2 separate regions of the Homo sapiens genome follow, and region 2 is linked to region 1. Evidence: fine-mapped expression QTL. A gene starts in region 1. The other region holds a variant in brackets. All regions are shown on one strand. Distances are between the middles of the regions. Region 1 holds the start of ZFAND2A (zinc finger AN1-type containing 2A). Region 2 has its middle 26 kb from the start of ZFAND2A-DT.

What was found. PIP is the estimated chance that this variant, and not a neighbour inherited with it, causes the effect. A credible set is the group of variants that fine-mapping cannot tell apart.
Region 2: its variant is the best candidate, but not a certain one, in a credible set for the expression of ZFAND2A in CD8 T cells (CEDAR, PIP 0.57).

Annotation. Positions count from the first base shown.
Region 1 is chr7:1,157,637-1,162,808 of GRCh38, reverse strand. ZFAND2A (zinc finger AN1-type containing 2A) reads left to right here and starts at 2,613. Exons shown (of 5, transcript NM_182491.4): 1 at 2,613-2,845; 2 at 4,552-4,651; 3 at 5,059-5,153. The coding sequence starts at 4,597. ZFAND2A-DT (ZFAND2A divergent transcript) reads right to left here and starts at 2,435. Exons shown (of 3, transcript NR_110069.1): 1 at 2,186-2,435; 2 at 266-457. RefSeq lists enhancers at 1,457-1,969, 1,970-2,483, 2,484-2,996, 2,997-3,511 and silencers at 2,075-2,124, 2,135-2,674.
Region 2 is chr7:1,183,673-1,189,184 of GRCh38, reverse strand. No RefSeq gene overlaps it. Among named protein-coding and RNA genes, the nearest start is that of ZFAND2A-DT, 26 kb to the right of the region's middle. The variant C/T (reference allele first, on the strand shown) is at 2,083.

The sequences.
Region 1 (5,172 bases):
CCTGACCAGCCTGGCTAACATGATGAAACCCCATCTCTTCCTAAAATACAAAACAATTAGCTGTGCGTGGTGGTGTGTACCTGTAATCCTACTTGGGAGGCTGAGGTGGGAGAATCACTTGAACCTGCAAGGCGGAGGTTGCAATGAGCCGAGACCGAGTCATTGCACTCCAGCCTGGGCAACAAGAATGAAACTCTGTCTCAGAAAAAAAAAAAAAAAGAAAAAGAAAAAAAAAGAAAATGTGGGTAAAACAGGGTTAACGAACCAGTCCAAGGAGAGCGATGTGGCCAAGGAGGAGGTCCTGCACTGATCCAGACATCTTGAAAGGTGGGAGTCCGGGCCTGGGCAGAGCCTTCAAGGGGAGATGTTGTGTGATTGGGAGGGACAGCAAGATGGAGCCAGTCACCACCGCCGTGCAGCTGGTGAGGTCCTGCTCTTTTCACAGCCCTTGAGTTCTCTGGTGAAAACCGAGAGTAAAGACTGTACAATAAGCCGGGCACAGTGGCTCATGTTCTGTAATCCCAGCGCTTTGGGAAGCTGAGGCAGAGGGATCACCTGAGGTCAGGAGTTCAAGACCAGCCTGGGCTACATAGCAAAACCCCGTATCTACAAAAAATACAAAAATTAGCCAGGCATGATGGCGCATGCCTGTAGCTCCCGCTACTCAGGAGCCTGAGGAAGAAGGATGGCTTGAGCCTGGGAGGTGGAGGCTGCAGTGAGCTGTGATCATCCCAGTGCCCTTCAGCCTGAGCCACAGAGGAAGACACTGTCTAAAGAAAAACAACAAGCTGGGCGCAGTGGCTCACGCCTGTAATGCCAGTACTTTGGGAGGCCGAGGCAGGCAGATCACCTGAGGTTGGGAGTTTGAGACCAGCCTGACCAATATGGAGAAACCCCCGTCTCTACTAAAAATACAAAATTAGCCGGGCCTGGTGGTGCATGCCTGTAATCCCAGCTACTTGGGAGACTGAGGCAGGAGAATCGCTTGAACCCAGGAGGTGGTGGTTCCGGTGAGCCGAGATCACACCACTGCACTCCAGCCTGGGCAACAAGAGTGAAACTCCATCTCAAAACAACAAACAAAAAACAAAACAAGAAAAAGCATGCCTGGTTGTGTCTGTCCTTACCTGATTGGGCATGGTCTCTATTGATTAGGCGACCATCTGGTCTGGTTGGCACGACGCTTTTTGGGTTTGAGGAAGGGTCTGCTCTGCTGCCCAGGCTCTAGTGCAGGGCGCATTCACAGCTGACTTATGCCTCCACCTCCCAAGAGGCTGGGACTGCAGGTGCATGCCACCATGCTGCGTTCATTTCTTATTTTTGTAGAGACAGGGTTTCGTCATGTTCACCAGGCTGGTCTTGAACTCCTGTCAGGCCTCTGAGCCCAAGCTAAGCCATCATATCCCCAGTGACCTGCATGTATACATCCAGATGGCCTGAAGCAACTGAAGATCCACAAAAGAAGTGAAAACAGCCTTAACTGATGACATTCCACCCTTGTAATTTGTTTCTGCCCCATCCTAACTGATCAATGTACTTTGTAATCTCCTCTACCCTTAAGAAGGTTCTTTGTAATTCTCCCCACCCTTGAGAATGTACCTTATGAGATCCACCACCTGCCTGCAAAACATTGCTCCTAACTCCACCGTCTATCCCAAAACCTGTAAGAACTAATGATAATCCCATCGCCCTTTGCTGACTCTCTTTTCCGACTCAGCCGGGCTGCACCCGGGTGAAATAAACAGCCTTGTTGCTCACACAAAGCCTGTTTGGTGGTCTCTTCACACAGACATGTGAGACACTAACCTCAGGCCATCCTCCCACCTCGGCCTCCCAAAGTGCCGGGATTACAGGCCTGAGCCACCGTGCACCGTCCGGCTAATATTTTATTTCTGCAGAGATGGGGTCTCGCTATGTTGCCCAGGCTGGTCTCCATGTCCTGGGCCCACGCCCTCCTCCTGCCCAGCTGGGCGGGGTCTTACCCAGGCGGAGCCCCTTACGTGCAGGGCGTTCTGTGCAGTGACCGCGGCCCTGGGCAGAGCCAACCCCACGCGGCCACATAACCGTCCAGGGGGCGGGGGGCAGCGCGGTGAAATGGAAAAGGATTTAACTGGGGGATCTAGGTGCTGGGGACACTGACATTTTCGGTATTATTCTTGAAGCTTTTCCCTAAGTTTGAAATTACCTAAAAACACGTTGTTTTGAGATGGAGGCCTCCTGGGGCCCGCAGGATGCGCGGCCGCGGGCGGGTGCCCGGGGCGGGAGGCGCCGGATGGGTCGCTAGGCCTCCTCCCTCAGGCCGGCCTCGCGCTCCTACCCCGCAGGACCCCGGCCGCAGCCCTGAGTCAGCTTCCCCGCTCCTCGCCCGCCCGGCTGCGCCTGCGCGGAGCCGCCTCACTGTGACCCAGCAAGCGCGCCGCCTGCGAGAAGCGACCGGACACTTCGAGAAGGGAAGTGGAGAAGCGAGGAGTGGGCGGGCCTGCGGGGCGCGGCGGGGCGGGATTGGCCGGATGGCTGGTGTCGTCTTCGGTGTGCGCCGGCGCCACTGGGCCGCGGCCTGGCGGGATTGGCCGGTCTGCGGGTGACGTTGTCGGGGCGCGCCCGGAAACCCCAAGGCCCAGACGGCTCTCAGATCCGGGGGCTGCGGATAAATCCCCGTAGGCCGCGGGCAGCGAGATGTTGCGTTCCGGTGTGGGTGTGGGTGTGCCTCCGACGGCGTCTCGGTGCCAGTGTCGAGGTTCTTTCTGCTTAGCTACCCGGAGCCGACTACGGAGGAGGACACCTGAGTTTACGTCTCTTCCATCTGCTGCTCACCTCAGCTGCCTGGGTCCCCGACGAGAGCCAGGTACGGGGCCGGGATTGCGCAGACAGGGTCTGCCGGGGGTCGGGCCTGCCTTGAGGTCAGGTTGCTCGGGGGTTCGGCCTGTCTGCTAGGAGTGCGGCTGCTGAAAGTCCGGCTGCTTGCTGGAGGTCAGGCTGCTGGGGGTCCGGCCTGTCTGCTGGGGACCGGGCCTGCCGGGGTCTGGCTGCTGGGGGTCCGGCCTGTCTGCTGGGGACCGGGCCTGCCGGGGTCTGGCTGTTGGGGGTCCGGCTGTCTGCTGGGGACCGGGCCTGCCGGGGTCTGGCTGCTGGGGGTCCGGCCTGTCTGCTGGGGACCGGGCCTGCCGGGGTCTGGCTGCTGGGGGTCCGGCCTGTCTGCTGGGGACCGGGCCTGCCGGGGTCTGGCTGTTGGGGGTCCGGCCTGTCTGCTGGGGACCGGGCCTGCCGGGGTCTGGCTGTTGGGGGTCCGGCTGTCTGCTGGGGACCGGGCCTGCCGGGGTCTGGCTGCTGGGGGTCCGGCCTGTCTGCTGGGAGTCCGGCTGTCTGCTGGGGGCCGGGCCTGCCATCGGGGCCGTAGTACCGGGTCGCACGGGGTCGTTAACCCGCCAGCCGAGTGACAGCCACGTAGATGTGTGTTTTCTTGCTGCGGGCCCGGCCCGCCAGGGTAGGGTGTTGGTTTCCTAGGACGGGTGCTGTGCGTCCAGAACAAAATCATTTGGGGATTCACATCAAACTCTTGTGAATTCCTTGAACAAAACAATTTCGGAACGCCTGCTGTGTGTCGGGCACCGGGAGCTAATAGTAAAGCAGCGGATCTGTAGTTGGAAGCTGTGGGCGAAGGAGGGCTGGGAAAGGACTAATGGGCACCTTAAGTAGCGGGCGTGTAACATAGAGGGAACTGGGGAGGGTGGGAATGGCTTTAAACTGAGGCGGGAGGGGATAACTAGACGTTTGCCATGGGCGAGAGTGTTCCAGTCTTAGGCGACAGTCTAGGAGGCCTCCAGGAGTGGGGAGAGAGCTGATGGGAAGGTCAGGAAAAGGCCCCGGGAGGGGCTGGTGAGTACTAGATGACGGGACCTCGTGAGCCCCAGGAAAAGGCCCCGGGAGGGCTGGTGGGTACTAGATCATGGAGGGGACCTCGTGAGCCCCTTGATTCTCTCTCGAGTGCGGTAGTTTCACCAGCTGTCTGCCTGTTTTCCATAGTGACTTAACAGCTTGCGCTTCTCCCTGATCAACTCCAGGTTGATGTCATCGAGGAATAAGTTCACAGTAAGATTCAATGCCTAAGGGAGTTGAAGAGAGAGGCGAGGGACAGAGTTAAATCTTCTCTGGATAATGGAGTCAACTGATGTGATTTAGCACCTAGTAACAGAGTTTTGTTTATGTGAACAAGTATATTCCATGGATAAAATTGTGACTTAAAATTCACCAAAGTCGTAATCATCACTGGCAGCTGTGTGAATTAGCTCTCGCCCCCTCAGTGTGAGTTTAAATAGAAACCCGAGTTCAAGGAGTGCTTCATAGACTAGGAATTAAAAGGCCTGTGAAGGAGTCCGTGTCTCTTAATGGGGTTGACTACGAATGGCGGACACCTGGTATTTGTACTAAAACTCCATGGAATGCTCCCCACACAGTGCGTTTGTTGACTTTCATTAGCTGTAATTACATTGTAAATCCTGGTGACTGAAGGGCAGTCCAGCTTTCCTCCTAACTATTCTGATTCTCTTGTAGGTGACACTTAACTCCGCCATCTGCGTTTTGAGCACTGTTCTCATAATGGAGTTTCCTGATTTGGGGAAGCATTGTTCAGAAAAGACTTGCAAGCAGCTAGGTGAGTACTTTTAAGAGACTTAATAGAAAATGGTATTTTGTTGGGGGAAAGCTGGCTGTTCTGTTAATTAGCTGATAATTGTGTCTTGGCCTTCCTGGCTCCTCAGTATTGGGAACTGTGCTGGTGCAGGTTCTGTTTGACACTTAGCATCCACCAGAGGCTGGGTGCAGGAGTGCAGGCTGGCTAGCAGGGCCAGGTGGATCCAGGGGGCTGCTGGAATACTTGCGATGCCATAGGGGGTCTCTAGAAGACAGCCTGACCCTGGGATTGTTTTCACATGTGTGGCCCTCGAGGACCTGTCCATCTCATAGGCCTAAAACACTTAGTGTAGGTAAACACTTTGATAGTACTATCTGGAAGTATTTTGTTCCAGTCGTTAAAACACTTCCCTGTTTTTTGTTTTTTAGATTTTCTTCCAGTAAAATGTGATGCATGTAAACAAGATTTCTGTAAAGATCATTTTCCATACGCTGCACATAAGTGTCCGTTTGCATTCCAGAAGGTAATTGATCCTTTGTTCA
Region 2 (5,512 bases), 26 kb before region 1:
GGGTCACAGACTAAGGAGGCCTTGCCCGCCTTCTTCTTCTTCTTCCTCTTCCTCCTCCTCCTCCTCTTCTTCCTCCTTCTCTTCCTCCTCCTCTTCCTCCTCCTCCTCTTCCTCTTCTTCCTTTTCCTCTTCTTCCTCTTCCTCCTCTTCCTCTTCCTTCTCTTCCTCTTCCTCCTCTTCCTCTTCCTCCTCCTCCTCTTCCTCTTCTTCCTCTTCCTCTTTCTCTTCCTCCTCTTCCTCTTCTTCCTCCTCCTCTTCTTCCTCTTCCTCTTCTTCCTCTTTCTCTTCCTCTTCCTCCTCTTCCTCTTCTTCGTCTTCCTCTTCCTCCTCTTCCTCTTCTTCCTCTTCCTCTTCTTCTTCCTCTTCCTCTTCCCCTTCTCCTTCTTCCCCTTCTCCTTCTTCTTCTTCTTCTTCCTATTATTTGTAGAGATGGAGTCTTCCTATGTTGCCCAGGCCAGTCTTAAACTCCTGGGCTCAGGCAACTCTCCTGCCTTGGCAGGAGGAGGGTTAGGTTTAGGGTTAGGGTTAGGGTTAGGTTTATGGGAAGCAATGCCATCATTTTAGACTAAAAAGTCATGGTAGATTAATCATCTTAATGTACAGAATGTGGTGAGATGCCTGCTTCTTTCTTTTTGGTCAAAGAGAAGTAAGCTAGAGTTTTTGCCAGAGAAAAAAGGTGCCTCTGGCACTCCCAGAAGCCTGGGCAGGCCAGGAGCAGTGCTCATGCCTGTAACCCCCGCACTTTGTGAGGCCAATACAGAAGGATCCCTTGAGCCAGGAGTTCAAGACCAGCCTGGGAAACATAGAGACCCCCCCCCACCGCCCCCACTCTACAAAAAATTTAAAAATTCGCTGGGCATGGTGGCTCACGCCTGTGGTTCCAGCTACTCAGGAGGCTGAGGTGGGAGGATTGCCTGAACTCTGGAGGTCGAGGCTGCAGTGAGCTATTAATACGATTGCACTGCACTCTAGCCTGGGCAACAGAGCAAGACCCTGTCTAGAAAAACAAAAACAAAAACAGACTCAAAGACTCAATAATTCAAATTCAAAACTTCTCAAAAGAGAAGATAGAGGCCGGGCGCGGTGGCTCACACCTGTAATCCCAGCACTTTGGGAGGCTGAGGCAGGTGGATCATGAGATCAGGAGTTCAAGACCAGCCTGGCCAAGATGGTGAAACCTCATCTCTACTAAAAATACAAAAATTAGCCACGTGTGGTGGCACACGCCTGTAATCCGAGCTACTCAGGAGGCTGAAGCAGAGAATTGCTTGAACCGAGGGGGCGGAGTTTGCTGTAAGCCAAGATTGTGCCACTGCACTCCAGCCTGGGTGACAGAGTGAAACTCTGTCTCAAAACAAAAAACAAAAAACAAACAAAAAAACAAAAAGAGAAGATAGAGACAGACTTCTTTTTTTGGTGCAGGGGGATGGAATCTCACTCTGTCACCCAGGCTGGAGTCCAGTAGCGACGAGATCTTGGCTCACTGTGACCTCCGCCTCTCAGATTCAAGTGATTCTCCTGCTTCAGCTTCCCAAGTAGCTGGGATTACAGGTGCCCACCACCACGCCTGGCTAATTTCTTTGTGTTTTTAGTAGAGACAGGATTTTACCATGTTGGCCAGGCTGGTCTCGAACTCCTGACCTCGTGATCCACCCGCCTCGGCCTCCCAAAGTGCTGGGATTACACACGTAAGCCCCCGCGCTGCCCGTAACCTATATTTCTACACAGCTGTCATTTCAGGAATATCGTAGGCATGAAACCATGTGGGTCACAGCCTCTGGGACTGACTTCTTCTCATCCAGCACAATTCTCTGTAGATTAACCCACGTTGTGTGTGTCAACATCCCTTCCTCCTTCTTGCTAAACAGATTCCACCTGAAGAGATTTCAAAAGACAAGAACAGTTTTAAAGACCACGTGCACTTTTCAGATGAAGGGGGATTCGCCCTGCTGGGGTCTGCGGCACTCAAACAAAAACACATTCTCGCATATCTCCAGAGTCTCAAATGTGCCTAAAAATTCTACTTGCTTGTCTCTTTTTTAAGGAACTAACTTAATCTCCCCCCCGACTTTTTTTTTTTTT[C/T]TTTTTTGAGACAGAGTCTCGCTCTGTCGCCCAGGCTGGAGGGCAGTGGCACGATCTCGGATCACTGCAAGCTCCGCCTCCCGGGTTCCTGCCATTCTCCTGCCTCAGCCTCCTGAGTAGCTGGAACTACAGGCGCCCGCCACCACACTCGGCTAATTTTTGTATTTTTAGTAGAGACGGAGTTTCACCATGTTGGCCAGGCTGGTTTCAAACTCCCGACCTCAGGTGATCCTCCCGCCTCAGCCTCCCAAAGTGCTGGGATGACAGGCGTGAGCCACTGTGCCTGGCCAGGAACTAACTTAATCCCGATCATGTAAAATTTCAGCTCAATTTATCACTTCTTACTTCACTGCAATTAAATAATCTCCAACACATATATTAAAAGTTATAGAAGTCATTTATTGTTCCTCTTTAAAGTTATTTATGCACAGAATATAACCTACCTCTTATTTCTATTTTATTTTCCCTGTGGTTAACACGCTGTCTGTCAGTCTCTTCCGTCGGCTTTTGCTTTTTAATTGTGCCACTGCTGTAATATATGGTCTTTATTGCATTAGTTTATGCCTTATATTAAATTATGTTCATCTAAGATTTGCAAGAAAAATAGCTTTTCGGCTTACTCAGGAATTTGGGAGACTTAATTTCGGTCGGCTGATTCTCAAGAAAGAAATTACAGTGTGAAAGGCAAAATGCCAGGGGAGGGATGGAGGCTTCGGAGGACGGGAAGGCGCCCTCAGCCTCGTGCCCTCTCTCAAGGTGAAAGGCACCTGAAGACGTTTTCACTCAACACTTTCTTTTCTGTTTTGTTTTGTTTTTTTCCAGACAGGTCTCGCTCTGTCACCCAGACTGGAGCTCAGGGTTTAATCATAGCTCACTGCAGCTTTGACCTCCTGAGTTCATGGGATCCTCCCACCTCAGTCTCCCAAGTAGCTGGGACTACAGGCGCACACCACCATGCCCAGCTAATTTTTCCGTTTTTAGTAGAGATGGGGTTTTGCCATGTTGCCCAGGCTCGTCTCGAACCCCTGACCTCAGGTGATCCGCCCACCTCGGCCTCCCAAGCAGCTGGGATTACAGGCATGAGCCACTATGCCTGGCCTCGTTCATTAAACACTTTCCATGGCAAGGCGGGGGGCTCGGGTAGGGCGATTGGCTGCAGGGCCCCCGTGGGGAGCAGGTGCTGGGTCGAGACCGGCACTCCTGGGGGCCTCTGAACTCCCCAGCAGCTCTTCACTCGGTTTCCCCGTTGCAATGATAACATCAGCTTGTGCCTGCCCCCGTCTGCCTGAAGCTTCTCCTCAGATCCTGCTGCCTGGCTCGGACCACTATGGACCCCGGGACTGACAATCTAACTGCCTCTGCTGCACCTGGCGGGGGCCCTGTAGACCCTGTCCACATACAGCCTGTGGACACCCAGTGCTCAGCCAGTCTTCCCTGCTGGGGGCTGAGGGTGGACAGAAAAGGCGGCAAGGAAAGTCCTCCACGGAGGGGGAGGGTGGACGGAAAAGGCGGCAGGGAAAGTCCACGGAGGGGCCGTGGGTGTCGGGGCCACAGCATGACCATGGAGACAGCTCGGTCCGCGTCGCCACGCTGAGAGGCGCCATCCTTTCAGGGCATGGCAGGTCGGGAGACCGAGGCAGGGGAGAGGTGCACAGCGAGGCGTTGACTCCTGAGGCCACAGTCCTCACCAGCCATTTCAATGGCAGCTGGAAAAGAAGTTCCCAGCTCTGTCCCTGGGACAGGGCTGGCCGCGTGTGTGGCACATTCTCAGTGCATGTTGCTGAACCAGGAACACGTGAATGTCAGACTCCAGTTCCACGCCTGGGCAGGTGCCCAACAGAAGGGGGTGCCTGTGGCCACCCAGAAACAGCGCTGGTCAGAGCATGATATTCATAACAGTCAAAAAATGGAAGCATCCGCCAGACTGGGCAATATAGTGAGACTCCATTGCTGCAAAAAAATAATTTTTTTTTTTTTTTGAGACGGAGTCTCGCTCTGTCACCCAGGCTGGAGAGCAAAGTGGCATGATCTTGGCTCACTACAACCTCTGCCTCCTGGGTTCAGGCAGTTCTCCTGCCTCAGCCTCCTGAGAGTAGCTGCAGGTGCCCGCCACCCCACCTGGCTAATTTTTGTATTTTTAGTAGAGATGGGGTTTGCCATGTTGGCCAGGCTGGTCTCAAACTCCTGACCTCAGGTGATCCACCTGCCTTGGCCTCCCGAAGTTGTTAGCCAGGCATGGTGGTGGGCACCTGTGGTCCCAGCTACTCAGCAGGCTGAGGTGGGAGGATCGCTTGAGCCCAGGAGGTCGAGACTGCAGTGAGCTATGATTGCACCACTGCACTCCAGCCTGGGTGACAGAGTGAGACCTTGTCTCTAGGGGAAAAAATAAAAGACAAACCAAAAAACCAAGGAAGCAGCCCAGATGCCCATCACAGAACGGGTGGGTGTGAAATGCACTCATCATGGAATACTACACGATAAGGAAGCAAGGAAAACTGCTGCACATGGCCACACAGATGAACCTCACAGAACCCGAGGCCGGGTGCGGCGGCTCACGCCTGTCATCCCAGCACTTTGGGAGGGCAAGGCAGGTGGGTCACCTGAGGTCAGGAGTTCGAGACCAGCCTGGCCAACATGGCAAAAGCCCGTGTCTACTAAAAATAGAAAAAATTAGTCTGGGCACGGTGGCTTACGCCTGTAATCCCAGCACTTTGGGAGGCCGAGGCGGGTGGATCACCAGGTCAGGAGATCGAGACCATCCTGGCTAACACGGTGAAACCCCGTCTCTACTAAAAATACAAAAAAAAAAAAAAAATTAGCTGGGCGTGGTTGTGGGTGCCTGTAGTCCCAGCTACTTGGGAGGCTGAGGCAGGAGAATGGTGTGAACCTGGGAGGCAGAGCTTGCAGTGAGCCGAGGTCGTGCCACTGCACTCCAGCCTGGGTGACAGAGCGAGACTCCGTCTGAAAAAAAAGGAATGATGCCAGGTGTGGTGGCTCACACCTGCAATTCCAACACTTAGGGAGGCCGAGGCAGGAGGATCAATTGAGCCCAGGAGTTCGAGACCAGCCTGGCCAACATGGCAAAACCCTGTCTCTACTAAAAATACTAAATTAGCCGGGCGTGGTGGCGGGCACCTGTAATCCCAGCTACTCGGGAGGCTGAGGCAGGAGAGTCATTTGAACCTGGGAGGCGGAGGTTGCAGTGAGCCGAGATCGTGCTACTGCACTCCAGCCTGGGCGACAGAGTGAGACTCTGTCTCAAAAAAAAAAAAAAAAAAAGCCTGACTCTGGGCTTTGCAATATCGCCAGGAAAGGCAGGCACTCCACACCCTGAACGGAGGTAAAGTCCTTGTGCCTCCCATGGGCCCAGCTGAGCTGGACTCAGGTTCTCATCCCTCCAGGGCGGCGTCCACTGCTGGAACAGGTGTCT